Homo sapiens: one gene and its partner. The protein of the gene in region 1 interacts with the protein of each later gene in a pairwise test. Each region holds a gene or a part of one and is shown on either strand. Other genes may lie near its edges.

Region 1 (7,384 bases):
CCTTGGCTAAGTTAATTCCCCTCTCTGGGCTTTTTGACTGTCTGCATAATTTCCGGAGAGCTGACCACTCTTTTTCTTTTTTTTAAGAGACAAGGTCTCACTCTGTCACCCAGGCTGGAGTGCAGTGGCACAATCATAGCTCACTGCCACCTCCAATTCCTAGGCTCAAGCAATCCTCCCCCCTCAGCCTCCCAAAGCGCTGGGCTTTCAGGTGTGTGCCACTGCACCCGCCCGCTTGACCATTTTTATATGTTAACAATGAGAAGGCAGAGGAATAAAGGGCTTTCTGTATTTTTCCTAATTCTCCATGAAGAATCTAAGAGACAGTATGGCCCAGGCTGAGAGTCAGACAGACCCAGGTTCGCAGCCTGACTTGGGCACACACCAGCCATGTAACCCTGGGCAAGTTGCTCAACTTGACTGAGTGAGGGTGACCAACCTCCCCAGCTTGCCCAGGGCTGAGGGTCCTCCCAGGATGCAGACTTTCAGACTAAAAGTCAGTGCATCAGAGTCCCAGGCAAACCAGGATGAGTTGGTTAATCCTAATCGAACCTCAGTTTCCTCATCTATAAACTTTATTTTTTCGAGACAGAGTTTCACTCTTGTCGCCCAGGCTGGAGTGCAATGGTACAATCTTGGCTCACTGCAGACTCTGCCTCCCGGGTTCAGGTGATTCTCCTGCCTCAGCCTCCTGAGTAGCTGGGATTACAGGCATGCACCAACATGCCTGGCTAATTTTTGTATTTTTAGTAGAGACAAGGTTTCACCATGTTGGCCAGGCTGGTCTCAAACTTCTGACCTCAGGTGATTTGCTGGCCTCAGACTCTCAAAGTGCTAGGATTACAGGCGTGAGCCACCATGCCCGACCTCATCTATAAACTTTTATGAGAGCTGACAAAGCTCCTTGCCTTATTGTCTCCTCACTGGAATATCAGCTCCTGGACACCCAGGTGGTGAGAGGCAGAGCCCAGGCCAGCCTGACTCATAAGCCTAGGTGCTTAAATGCCATGCTTGCCAGTAAATCACATGGTTTGAAAAATCTGAGAATCAAGCCGGTAAATAGGAACAGCTGAAGCTTCAGAGTCCTGCATTTCAAACATAAAATATAATATAAAATAAGATAAAATAAAATAAAATAAAATGCCTGTAGGAATTTTTAGAGTGTTGGTAGGAATAGAATGGAAAATCAAAAAGGCCGGGCACAGTGGCTCACGTCTTTAATTCCAGCACTTTGGGAGGTCGAGGCTGGCAGATCACTTGAGGTCGGGAGTTCAAGACCAGCCTGGCCAATATGGTGAAACCCTGTCTCTACAAAAATACAAAAAAATTAGCTTGGCATGGTGGTGCACGCCTGAAATTCCAGCTACTCGGGAGGCCGAGGCAGGAGAATCCCTTGAACCTGGGAGGTGGAGATTGCAGTGGGCAGAAATCATGCCATTGCACTCCAGCCCAGGTGACAAGAGTGAAACTCTGTCAAAAAAAAAAAAAAAAAAAAAATTTAAAAGGAAAAAAGTGTGAGTCCTAAGTCAATTATCTTTTTTTAAAAAAATTCAAGATATGAGTCAAAGTTGACACTGATTATAGCAACGTGTGTGTGTGTGTGTGTGTGTGTGTGTGTGTGTGTTTTAAAATACAAAATAAATGCATGAGGTCCTCATGACAAGCCAGAGACAGATTGTCAGATGTGGCAGATCCAGCCTTAGGTAAAATCATTCATGCGTGTAGGTAATGAGCTTTTGGACTTAAACGCACCCAGCTCAGTTATTCGGTTGGACATTTTCGTGTTGTTGCTGATGTTTTTATTAGTGTTGCCGTTCTCCTCTGTTTTACATCATTACTTCAACCCAGCAAGCTTGGAGTATGTATCCCAGAAGATGCAAACAGCTGGGATTATTATATTTGTGTGTGTGTGTGTGTGTGTGTGTGTGTGTGTGTGATTAGAATGTCTGTGTAAGTGTGGAGCAGGAAGGGAACCAATGTATTTTGGTCTCTGCCACTTGCCAGACACCTGTAGATGCAGTACCGACATAATCCTCTCAATCCTCTCAACTGCTCTAGGAAGTAGGGAAGGTTACCGCCCTCATTCTGGAGGCTGGGACTGAGGTTTAGGGAGGAGAAGTCACCCACCCAAGGTTACGCAGTCAGTATGGGACAGCATTCGGACCTAGACCCAGTTCTATCGGCGCTTTCTGCACTGCTCCAAAAAAATATTTAGGCAGTTGGCATGCAGTTGCCACTTGATGCTTTCTGCTTGTCTTTCAGTCTTGCATTTATCTGCCTAGGACCTCCCTTGTCCCCTAGAAGGCAATCTGAGACAGCTGATGCCTTTGATTGCTATGTGCCCATAGCAAAGAATATGAAAGACTTCTTTTTAAAAAAAAAAATCAGTAAGCCAGAGATGAGGCATTTGAATGAACATAATTAGTTCTCCCTGGTTGCACCACACGGCTACTTCTCATGAAGTTATTTGCAGAGTTTATCCTTGAAATGGAACAGAAGCTATAAAAGTTTGAGAACCAGCCTACCAACTCCCCCACCAAAAATAATAATAACTACCATTTGAGTACTTGCTATGTGCCTAGATCTGCTCTAAGCACTTTACATGCACCACCTCTTTTAACACTCAGACTCACGCTGTAAGAGGGGAGTTATGATCCCCATGTTCCAGGTGAAGAAACTGAGGCTTGGGGAGGGAAAAATCACTTACCTATGGTCTCTCTGCTGGATGTTTGAGAGGCTGGATCTCTCCTTTCCTGTCACCTGCCTTAGGCTGTAATGTTGAGCCCTGTCTTTGACATTGGGAGGACATGAAATCCTTTGCCTCTCCCCTCTCCCAACCCCTGTCCCCAGCTCAAAGGTGCATCTGCCACTCACCGGAAGTACCAAACTGCTGGAGAGACCAGACAACTGCAGTGCGGGGACACAGGATGCTATTTCCTGAGGGGAAGCTCCTGATTCTGGAGCGTCTTGTTTCCAGCCCTCTGTCCGCCAGCCCGGACTGGAGTGCAGGGTCAAAGTCTGGAGCTATGGACAGGGCACGGCTTGAGGGGTGGGGCTCGGCACTGCACTGCCCACAGAGACTGGACCCAGGCCCGGCCGGGAGACCTCGCTCCCAGTCCCTGAAAAGTTGCCTGACTTTTCTGGCTGATCTCAAGCCCCTGTGGACAGGCCTTGGGGGAAGGAGGGAGGGCAGGCATTCTTGGAGGGTTGATGAGCACAAGAAGGTCTGTCTCTCTGGCCAGCTGGAGAGGATCCCCTTTCTTCCTTCTTCCTGCTGCCACCCTGGGGGAGGGTCAGGACGTTCCATGGGGCACTGTAGGCCTGGCCTGCGGTGGGGGTGGTCAGCCTGGCAGCCCCTGAGGGGAAAGGAGAGGCACAGGACAGGGGCTCCCTGGGCCAGCCCGATGCCATTCCAGGACGCTGGGGAGATGAGGCCAAGGAGAGACTGGAGGTGACGCCTGTGTGGGCCATGAGGATGCGTGGCTCTTTGCTCCCGTATCCCAGAGACGCAAGCAGCAGGACTCCAGGCCCTTCCTCTGCCAGGGATAAACATGGAGCTGTGATTTTTAGAGCCCAGAGATCTGCAGGCACCTCACTGTACAGATGGGAAGACTGAGGCCTGAGAGAGAGGGACCAACCAGCCCTGAGGGAGGCATTCTTTGGGTCAGCTTTAGCAATCCAGCCTCTAACACCTGCCTTTAGTATCATCAAATAAAAAGACGAAGATGAAATAAGAAAATGCATGCAAAATACTCACTGCATAGTATTTTTTCCTTTTTTAAAAGAGGGTCGGCTGGGCACAGTGCCTCACACCTGTAATTCTGACACTTTGGGAGGCCATGGTGGGTGGATCACCTGAGGTCAGGAGTTCGAGACCAGCCTGGCCAACATGGCGAAACCCCGTCTCTACTAAAATTACAAAAAATCAGCCAGGAGTGGTGGGGTGTGCCTGTAATCCTGGCTACACAGGAGGCTGAGGCAGGAGAATTGCTTGAACCTGGTGGGTGGAGGTAGCAGTGAGCCAAGATGGCACCACTGCACACTCCAGCCTGGGCTACAGAGCGATACTCTGTCTAAAAAAAAAAAAGAAAACAAAAAAAAAGAAAAAGAAAAGATAACAGACAGGGTCAGGCCAGGCGCAGTGGCTCTTGCCTGTAATCGCAGCACTTTGGGAGGCCGAGGTGGATGGATCACTTGAGGTTAGGCGTTTGAGACCAGCCTGGCTAACATGTTGGTGAAACCCTATCTCTACTAAAAATACAAAAATTAGCCGGCCGTGGTGGCACATGTCCGTAATCTCAGCTACTCGGGAGGCTGAGGCAAGAGAATCACTTGAACTGGGAGGCGGAGCTTGCAGTGAACCAAGATCAAGCCACTGCACTCTAGCCTGGGTGACAGAGTGAGACCCAGTCTCAAAAAACAAAAAAAAAAAAAAAAAAAAGAGAGAGAGAGAGAGAGAGGATCTCACTCTGTCACCCAGGCCAGAGTGCAGTGGCGCCTTGAACTCCTGCGCTCAAGCAATCCTTCTGCTTCAGCCTAGCCAGGACTACAGATGCATGCCATAACACCCAGCCAAATTACTTACTTTTTGTAAAGACAGGGTCTTGCTATTTTGCCCAAGCTGGTCTCAAACTCCTGGCCTCAAGCAATCATCCCACCCCGACCTCCCAAAGGGTTGGGATTACAGGCATAAGCCACCACGCTATGACATATTTTTTTTTCTTCAATAATAAAAAATGGATAGGGTGAAACCCACTTTTTACTTTATATCTAACTAGTTTGAATTTTAATACAATAGTCATGTATCACTTATATAACATATGGCCCTTATAAAGTTCCCTGTGTGTTTAATTCATCATGGGAGCACTTGAACATTCATAAAAGTTAGTCCAATATCTTCATGCTCCCCACTGCCATCACAGCAATAATTTACGTTTTGTAAATTGCGGTGTACCAATTCTAAATACCTGGATTTTCTTTTTTTCTTTTTTATTTTTTTCTGAGACAGAGTCTCACTCTGTCGCCCAGGCTGGAGTGCAGTGGTGCCATCTCAACTCACTGCAACATCTGCCTCCCAGATTCAAGCAATTCTCCTGCCTCAGACTCCCGAGTGGCTGGGTTTACAGGCACATACCACCTCACCTGGCTCATTGTTTTTCTATTTTTAGTAGAGACAGGGTTTCACCATGTTGGCCAGGCTGGTCTTGAACTCCTGACCTCAGGTGATCTGCCCACCTTGGCCTCCCAAAGTGGTGGGATTATAGGCGTGAGCCACCGCACCCTGCCTTACCCAGATTTTCTCTTTGAATCTCGAAACAGCCCTGTAAGGCAGGTGCTGTTATTATCATCCCCACTTCAGAGTTGAAATTCAGAAACTTGCTCCAGCATCCACTGAAGTTAAAGATGGCTATCCTAATATCTATCATGCCCACGCCTATATATATACCCAAGATAAATGAAAACACACATCAATCAAAAGGCTTCTGTAAGAATGTTCATAGCCCCTGTTAACTAAAAAAAAAAAAAAAAAAAAAATCACAAATGTGTAAATTCAGAGAGGAGAAGAAATCTTATTTCTTATAAGGGGTTATAGCCCACAAGGTGACCAGTCCATGGCCTGGGAAGTATGCCTCCTACCAAGAACAGAGACGGGCACTTTGAAGGAGGAGGGGTTGGGTTAGGAGCTTTGTGCTGAAGGGGTTGGCTGAATGATATATCCAGCAGGTTACAGGAGAAGCTATGAATATTTATGAAGGTGGCCCCAACACATGTGTATGAACAAATGTGCATGTAACATACAACCCATGTTCACTTTGGGGTGGAGACTTAACATTTAAATGTATTACAATTAGGCCAGCCATGGTGGCTCATGCCTATAATACTAGCACTTTTGGAGTCCAAGGTGGGTGGATCGCTTGAGCCCAGGAGTTTGAGACCAGCTTGGGCAACATGGCGAAACCCCTGTCTCTACAAAAAATACAAAAAGTAGCCGGGCGCAGTTGCGTGCACCTGTAGTCCCAGCTACTTGGGAGGCTGAGGTGGGAGGATTGCTTGAGCCCAGGAGGCAGAGGTTGCAGTGAGTTGTGATCGTGCCACTGCACTCCAGCCTGGGCAACAGAGTAAGACCCTATCTCAATCAATCAATTGATCAATCAATCAATCAATGTATTACAATTAGAACCTACACATCAAAATGTCTTTTCAGGAAATGCAGGCACATGAGGTTGCGGTTTCGTAACCCCACCAGAAGCAGTCCATAGTCAGTGATCTTTTTATTAGGAGAAAGTTACCAAACTCAGTCTCTTGTTCAATCAAAGCTGTAGTTGTTGTTATGACTGGAGGAACAGGGTGTCAGTTGGGTGTCTGTGTGCTAGATGAGTTGTAACTGTTTTAATATTGCTTCTTCTGAGGCCAGTGCTTGTTTCGCTGCTAGAGAAAAAGAAAAATCTTGTAACATAATTAGAACATAGTTTATTCCTTAAGAGTAGGGGCACCTGACTTAACCCTTGCCTGACATGGCCTTAGGCTGTGTTTATAATTTGGTATCTTATTGCCACAAAAAGTCTGTTCTGTCAGTCTTATAATCTCTCTCTCTTTTTTTTTTTTTTTTGAGACAGAGTCTCACTCTATTACCCATGCTGGAGTGCAGTGGAAAGATCATGACTCACTGCAGCCTCTGCTTCCTGGGCTCAAGCGATCCTCTCACCTCAGCCTCCCCAGTAGCTGGGACCACAGACACGCACCACCGTGCCTGGCTAATTATTTTATTTTATTTTATTTTATTTTGTAGAGACAGAGTTTCACCATGTTGCCCAGGCTGGTCTCGAACTTCTGGCCTCAAGTGATCTGCCTTCCTCAGTCTCCCAGGGGACTGGGATTACAGGTGTGAGTCACCATACTCAGCCCTCTATTTTAGCATTGATGCTGATCTTTTCTTGTATCTAAACCACAAAAGGAAGGAAGGGAGTGTAATGTGGTGTGCCTGACCTCCTGTCTCATCATGGCTGGAAACAAAGTTTTTAAAGTTTTTCTGGGGTTCCCTTTGCCAAGAAGGGTGTTCATTTAGTGGACCCTTAGGATTTTATTTTGAATTTACACCCCAAACTGGAAACAACCAAATATCTATGAGACAGAGGATGGATAAACAAATTGTGGTGTTTTCAGGAAACAAAACTCCCCCCTCCAAAAAAAAATTCACACAATGGAATATTATACAGCAATGAAAAGGGAAAATACTGTTATATATAGCAACCTGAATGAATCTCAGTCATTAGGTTAAGAAGAAGCAGCCAGACACTTAAGAGCTCATATTGCATACTTCCACTTTTATGAAATTCAAGAACATACAAAATTAATTGACAATAACAGGCTGTGAGAAGAGTGG
Region 2 (7,044 bases), about 81 Mb from region 1:
CAGAGATAAAATACTATCATTCAAATTTCTGTTTTCTAGTGTTTGAAATAAAGGTGCTAGACCAAGTGAATTTCAAGACCACATCCAACCCCAACACAATGATGTCTTCAAAAATAATAATATACTAAGAAAGAATGGAGGTAGAGGCTATGCACACACAAAAAACTTATATAAGGGAGTAGATTAAGAAGAAGCAGTAAACAAGAAGCCCATGCTTGATCCCCTAAAAAGTGTTCAATAAAACTGATGCATTACACTATGGAAACTAGGTTAGTAATAGGCACCTACTAAACAGTTAAGATTTTTTAAAGGTTCCTATCATGTTTATATCTAAATGTGTTTTAGTTTGTTTTTCCAATCAGAGCGTGAATAGAGTACTCTTCATCAAGAGCCTCGTCTTGTCCCTTAAAGCCAGCCAGCCAGCCAGCCAGCCCACTTTTTTGTGCCAACAGACGTCAGGGTGGCAGGTACTGGGGGGTCCCTGATTCCTGCTGCTTACCTTTCTTGCTGCCAATGGTCCTTAAAATCCAACCATGATGCCCTCTCTGTGTGTGCAAATTTGGGGAACCAAAGGAAATAAAGCTTGTAAACAAGCACTAAATTTTCCCAGCCGCAATTTGTTTTTGCTCCCCAAAGGTACACAGATAGTAAATTTTGTAAGATCAAAACAGTTTTTAGTATTTATCCAGCATAATCATTTGTCCTAAGCAAACATGTAAGGGGCTTCTTTTTGAGACCAATGAATAGGCAGTTAAAGTAAATGATTCCATCTCTCCAGACCCCAACACGCTCAAATTCACTTGAAGAGAAACACTTTTTAATGCTGAATTTGTTTTAAGATGAAATTGCCACCTAAAAACAGACCATTTAATAAAGAGGCATACTGCTAAAGGTTATGAGTCCAGGCTTACACAGGGAAGTCTCAGACATCACACATCAATTGCTGTCTGACCTTAGACAAATTACTGAATCTGTTGATCTGTTCCTCAGTTTTCTCATCTGTTAAGTAGGGATAAGAAGGGCACAATATCTGGCATGCAGTAAGAGCTGAAAAGGACAGCACTTGCAGAGATAAGTCTTTCTCCATTGGCATTCTAGGGAGTGCTTCTCTGGGTGTCCTAAGTCTAAGTTTTTCTTAACCTTGGGAGCGTTGGTTTCTCATTTGTCAACTGCAACAGTCACTGACTGTGATGTTTTGTGCTCTCTCATCCACAAATTCTCATCACTTACTGCTTCATTTCCAACTTTCTGAAAATAATTCTTCCACTCTTCACCTCCTGAATGGTAAAGGTATAAATTCAAGCTATCAACTACTTTTCAAAATTATCATCTCTACAGTGTTTTCTTAATTTAACACACTATGTTCACGAGGTAAAAAGAAGAATTTCAAGACCAAGTAACAAGTCATCTATCATAGCTATATACTTGTTCCTTGCAATAAATAAAAATATTATCATTAGAATTTCTGTTTTAAGTGAGAAAATTGGATAAAACCACAATTGAATTTCAAGGTCACTTATAAGAAAAATTTTTTTTAAAAGGAGAGCTTTTTAAGAGACAGGGTCTCGTTTCATTGCCCAGGCTGGAATGCAGTGGCCTGATCATGGCTCACTGCAGCCTTGAACTCCCAGCCTCAAGCAATCCTCCTGACTCAGCCTCCCAAGTAGCTAGGCCACCGTGCGTGGCTTAAAAAGCTCTTTAAACCCCTAAAAGCTAAGTAACATGAAACATGCTTAACACCAGCACGCAGATCTCAAGGATTAACAGTAGCTACATACAACCATAGGAAGGCAAGATGACACAGAGGTCTGGGTGGCTTCGAGTCTAGCCCTGTGATTATGTGGAAGGTAATTAAACTCACTGAGCCTCAGTTTCCACTTTAAGGAAATGGGATTAATAACATCTACCTCACAGAGATGTTGTGAGCATTAATATGAAGTGACACCTCAAGTTGTGACTACAATACCTGACCCAGAGTAAGAGCTCAAGAAATGAAAACCATCATTATGACCCCCTATGTAGAGAAAGAAGTTTGCTTACCATCAGAGTAAAAATTAGAACAAAATGCCAAGATCCTTTCAAAAGTCCTTTCTCAACCACTCAGAACACGACTGCTTAAGTCTGTGGGCCATCCAGGTCCTTTTGTCTCCTCTTTCCCCTTCATCTACTTGCCTTCTGCCATGTCCCTACGCATTAACTTCCCCTAGGGACTAGGAAGGGGAGAAGGGGAAAGGTTAGAAAATAGAGGTAGTCATTGTTGCAACCTATGCCCAGCTCTAAGAAACTCCAAAAGCAAAGATGCAAAAAGCAATTTAAACTGTTGGCCAAAATTAAATGGGGAGTTGGGGGGGAGTGTGAATAGACGTACAGTTTTCTTTCTTGCACTATTCCCAGGCTCTACTACAACATCAACCACAGAAATGCTCCAAAAATGGTAAACATTGGCTGAGAGGAGAAGGGACAGCTCAGCAAACGCTAAGGCTGACAACTGCAATTCCATCTCTGCCAGGAGACACTTGTTTATTAAAGTCTCTCTCTCAGCCTTGCTGTATTCACACATGGAACAGGAGGACTCACTCCAACTCCATTTTCAGAGCTAAAGTGCAGGGCAATGGAAAAGACTAGAGAAAGCTCTGGAAATGGAGAACCTTAATGAACCAACTGCTGCAACAGTGGTCAGTTCCTGCAAGTTATCACTGATTAAAGGGAAAGCAAGCACCCTCGATCTCACAAGCTTTTTTTTTTTTTTTTTTTGAGACAAAGTCTCACTCTGTTGCCCAGGCTGGAGTGCAGTGGTCTGATCTTGGCTCACCGCAACCTCCCCATCCCGGTTTCAAGCGATTTTCCTGCCTCGGCCTCTCAAGTAGCTAGGACTACAGGTGCCCACCACCATGCCCAGCTAATTTTTGTATTATTAGTAGAGACAGGGTTTCACCACGTTGGCCAGGCTGGTCTCGAACCTCTGACCTCAGGTGATCCGCCTGCCTCAGCCTCCCAAAGTGCTGGGATTACAGGTGTGAGCCGCCGTGCCTAGAGGTCTCACAAGCTTTTATGTGTGAAGAGTTACATCCTGACAATTTGTGAGATCAAACCCACGTTCAGACCATCAGGCAGTGTTGCACACTTGGCCTACAGAGCAAAACATTTCTTTTTTACCCTCTGATGGTCATATAGCACCCACTATCTTCTCCAGAGTGCAGAAGGCTTTATAAAATCTCTCAATTGGCCGGGCGCGGTGGCTCATGTCTATAATCCCAGCACTTTGGGAGGCCAAGGCAGGCAGATCACGAGGTCAGGAGATCGAGACCATCCTGGCTAACACAGTGAAACCCCATCTCTACTAAAAATACAAAAAAAAATTAGCCAGGCATGGTGGCGGGCACCTGTAGTCCTAGCTACTCGGGAGGCTGAGGCAGGAGAATAGCGTTAACACGGGACGCGGAGCTTGCAGTGAGCCAAGATTGGGCCACTGCACTCCAGCCTGGGCGACAGAGCGAGACTCTGTCTCAAAAAAAAAAAAAAAAAAAAACTCTTTCAATCCCAGAGTTCCTGCTATTTAAGATTCTGGATCACTGCACTATTCAGTCCCTGGGAAAAGTGAACTGCTCTACATTTGACCCCTTTATCAAAGTAAAATACTGATACATCCCAAAGCAGTCTCCGACAAAGGTGAATCAAAGTAGATGTGAAATTCTGCATAGCCAGAGGCCAAAATCTGGTTTTCTTTCTCAAGGTTCCAAATTTCTTCCAGTGCATGCATAACCTGTATTGGATGCCTCATCCAGGAAAAACTCTGTGCTAGGTTTCATTTTTACTTGTCTCATCACCTAAACTCAATTTTAAACTTCTTGAGGGCAGCAATTACGTCATCAGTTTCTGTACATCCAACAGTGACTAGAAGAATGCTGGGCTTAAAGGCTGTCGTGGAGCTGAGGCACACATGATGAAATTTTGAAAAGTAGCACTGTACCACAAAAGATCTGTGCTCTATTTTTTAGAAGGAAATAATTTTTTTTAAAGAAGGGGGGAAATGTGCATGAAGATGGTCCCTGCAAGTCTAAAATCCAAAACTTATAAACAATTTAAGTGGTTATAACTACTCAATGGATATTTACATTTTGGTTGCTGTACTTATTACACATCCTTGAGCAATTTACTTCTCTGTGCCTCACTTTCTGTCTCTTTAGAATGGGAACCTGCCTAACAGCCCTTGTGAAGAATAAGTTAGATAATTCATGCAAAGCAGCGGGAACAGTACCTACTGCAGAGTTAAGTGTTCAATTAAATGATGTCTCTCATTATTTCTCAGCTACTCTAAATAAATATAATGACTGTTACCAAGGTAAAAATGTTCACTATAGTGTTACAAATAAAGCGAAATATAAAATTATACATTAACTTTTATTACAATAATGTAAAAATATATTCCATAGTTTTTTTTAAAGAAAACACGTATTTTAAGCACCTATTATTATTGGACATCTTGTTAGGAGTAGGGCTATACATAAGCATTGAGTAAGTCCTAGTTCCTGATCGGAAGGCAGAGAGACAACAACAGAGAATTTCAATTCAAGTCGGGGAATGTGCATGAGATGCTAGAGGAGCAGACACGGAACACTCAGCCCAAGCCAGAGTTCGGGAAGGAACTCCTAGGAGATATGTCATACCTGAGTCAAAGCAGAGGGAACTAAAGAAGGGTACAATTTCCAATACAGCATCAATAATCAATTAGAAGATATAATGGAGGGTCAGGCATGGTGGCATGTAATCTTAGCACTTTGGGAGGCCACAGTGGGAGGATTACCTGAGGCCAGGAGTTCAAGACCAGCCTGGGTAACATAGCCCCCATTTCTACAAAAGAAAAAATTTTAATTTTAAAAAATTAACCAAGCATGGTGTTGCATGCCTGTAGTCCCAGCTACTGGGGAGGCTGAAGCAGGAGGATTGCTTGAGCCCAAGAGTTGAAGGCTGCAGTAAGTTATGATCACACCACTGTACTCCAGCCTGGGTGACAAAGCAAGACCCCATTTCTTTAAAAAAGAAAAAATAAAGGGATATTTGGATGTCTGGCAACATTTCCTCCCTTCCCCGTAGAAGTAACCAGCCATGGTTGAGAGGTGGAGCCCTCTTTTGGTGGGGCGATAGCTCTCAGCTTCATCATAACTCCCACCCACCCCTCTATGCAACAATTTCACCTACCCAGTCACTTTGGGATCTTATTTTTGAACACTGCAGAAAAAATAACAGCATGGGAAAACATGCACGACATTACATAACAGACAAGAGATTAATATCTGTATTCACACATAGAACTTCTCAAATGAATGTGAAGAAAATAAGCCAATTTTTAGGAAACTGGCAAAGACCATTTACAAAAGAAATACAAATGGCCAACCAACATATAAAAAGAATAATCTCTCTTCTAATTGGGAAAAATCACACTAGTGTTTTTGCCCATTAGGTTTGGGGAAAAAAAGATGATAATATTCTATCTTGGCAAGAGTATAGGGAACTGGCAAGCACAAACACTTTTGATGGAAGAGGAAATCAGAACAATTTTTTTGATGGGCAATTTGGCGGGAGCAACCAAAATCTATTTATTTATTTATTTTTAACTGTTTATAGAGATGAGGTCTCACTATGTTGCTCAGGCTGGAGTGCAATGGCTATTCACGGGCCCGATGAGAGTGCACTGCAGCCTTCAGTTCCTGGGCTCAAGTGATCCTCCTGCCTAAGCCTCCCAAGTAGCTGGGACTACAAGCGTGAACCATTGCACCCAGCTTCAACAAAATTTAAAACATGCATACACAGCTGGGCGCGGTGGCTCACAACTTAATCCCAGCACTTTGGGAAGCCTAGGTGGGCGGATCACGAGGTCAGGAGATCGAGACCATGCTGGCTAACAAGGTGAAACCCCTTCTCTACTAAAAATACAAAAAAAAAAAAAATTAGCCAGGCGTGGTGGCGGGCACCTGTAGTCCCAGCTACTCGGGAAACTGAGGCAGGAGAATGGCGTAACCTGGGAGGCGGAGCTTGCAGTGAGCCGAGATCGCGTCACTGTACTCCAGCCTGGGCAACAGAACGAGACTCCGTCCCCAAAAAAAAAAAACAAAAACAAAAAAAAAAAACACATACACTTTGCCCTACCTATCCAGGGATTCCACGAATTTGACATATGAAACTAACTCACATATGGCTACTAAGATACATGCACGCATCTACCAGGATGTTCAATGGCAGTGCTTATTGAAACATCCAATGCAAATGGAAGTGACCTAAATGTCCATAAATAAGGGAAGGGCTAATTACATTATGGTACATCCATAGGCTGGAATGCCACGCAGCCATTAAAAAGCGTGAGGTAAGGCCGGGCGCGGTGGCTCACGCCTGTAATCCCAGCACTTTGGGAGGCTGAGGCGGGCGGATCACGAGGTCAGGAGATCGAGACCATCCTGTCTAACACAGTGAAACCCCGTCTCTACTAAAAATACAAAAAAAAATTAGCCGGGTGTGGTAGCGGGCGCCTGTAGTCCCAGCTCCTCGGGAGGCTGAGGCAGGAGAATGGCGTGAACCCGGGAGGCGGAGCTTGCAGTGAGCCGAGATCCCGCCACTGCACTCCAGCCTGGGCGACAGAGCGAGACTCCGTCTCAAAAAAAATAAAAAAATAAAAAAGCATAAGGTAGATCTACATTTGTTGACACAGAAAAAAAACTCTCAGATATGGTTAAATGGAAATATCAAGTGCCATAATAATTAGTACAACCTAGACAATTTCAGAATTTTTAAAATGTGTAAGGTGATACACCCCCGTGCACATTAATATACATAAACACTTTTCCCCTATTGTTAACCACTATCAATATACTTATACAGCTGATCCTTTAATAACACGGGTTTGAACTGTGAGGGTCCACTTACATTCAGATTTTCTTCTGCCTCTGCCACCCCGAGACTGCAAAACCAACCCTTCCTCTACCTCCTTTTCCTCCTCAGCCTACTCAGCGTCAAGATGATAAGGATGATCCACTTCCGCTTAATTTTCTC

The links. The genes of interacting proteins can lie anywhere in the genome.
Region 2: the proteins of DAO (region 1) and KLHL42 interact in binary tests that used the Homo sapiens proteins (3 or more experiments, as listed by UniProt).

What each region holds. Positions count from the first base shown.
Region 1 is NC_000012.12:108,875,715-108,883,098, reverse strand, and holds the start of DAO (D-amino-acid oxidase), read right to left. Parts: upstream 3,008-7,384; 5' UTR 2,875-3,007; intron 2,790-2,874; exon of another isoform or gene 2,708-2,789; intron 1-2,707. UniProt on the Homo sapiens protein: Catalyzes the oxidative deamination of D-amino acids with broad substrate specificity. Required to catabolize D-amino acids synthesized endogenously, of gastrointestinal bacterial origin or obtained from the diet, and to use these as nutrients.
Region 2 is NC_000012.12:27,783,205-27,790,248, reverse strand, and holds part of KLHL42 (kelch-like protein 42), read right to left. Parts: intron 2,211-7,044; exon of another isoform or gene 2,041-2,210; intron 1-2,040. UniProt on the Homo sapiens protein: Substrate-specific adapter of a BCR (BTB-CUL3-RBX1) E3 ubiquitin-protein ligase complex required for mitotic progression and cytokinesis. The BCR(KLHL42) E3 ubiquitin ligase complex mediates the ubiquitination and subsequent degradation of KATNA1.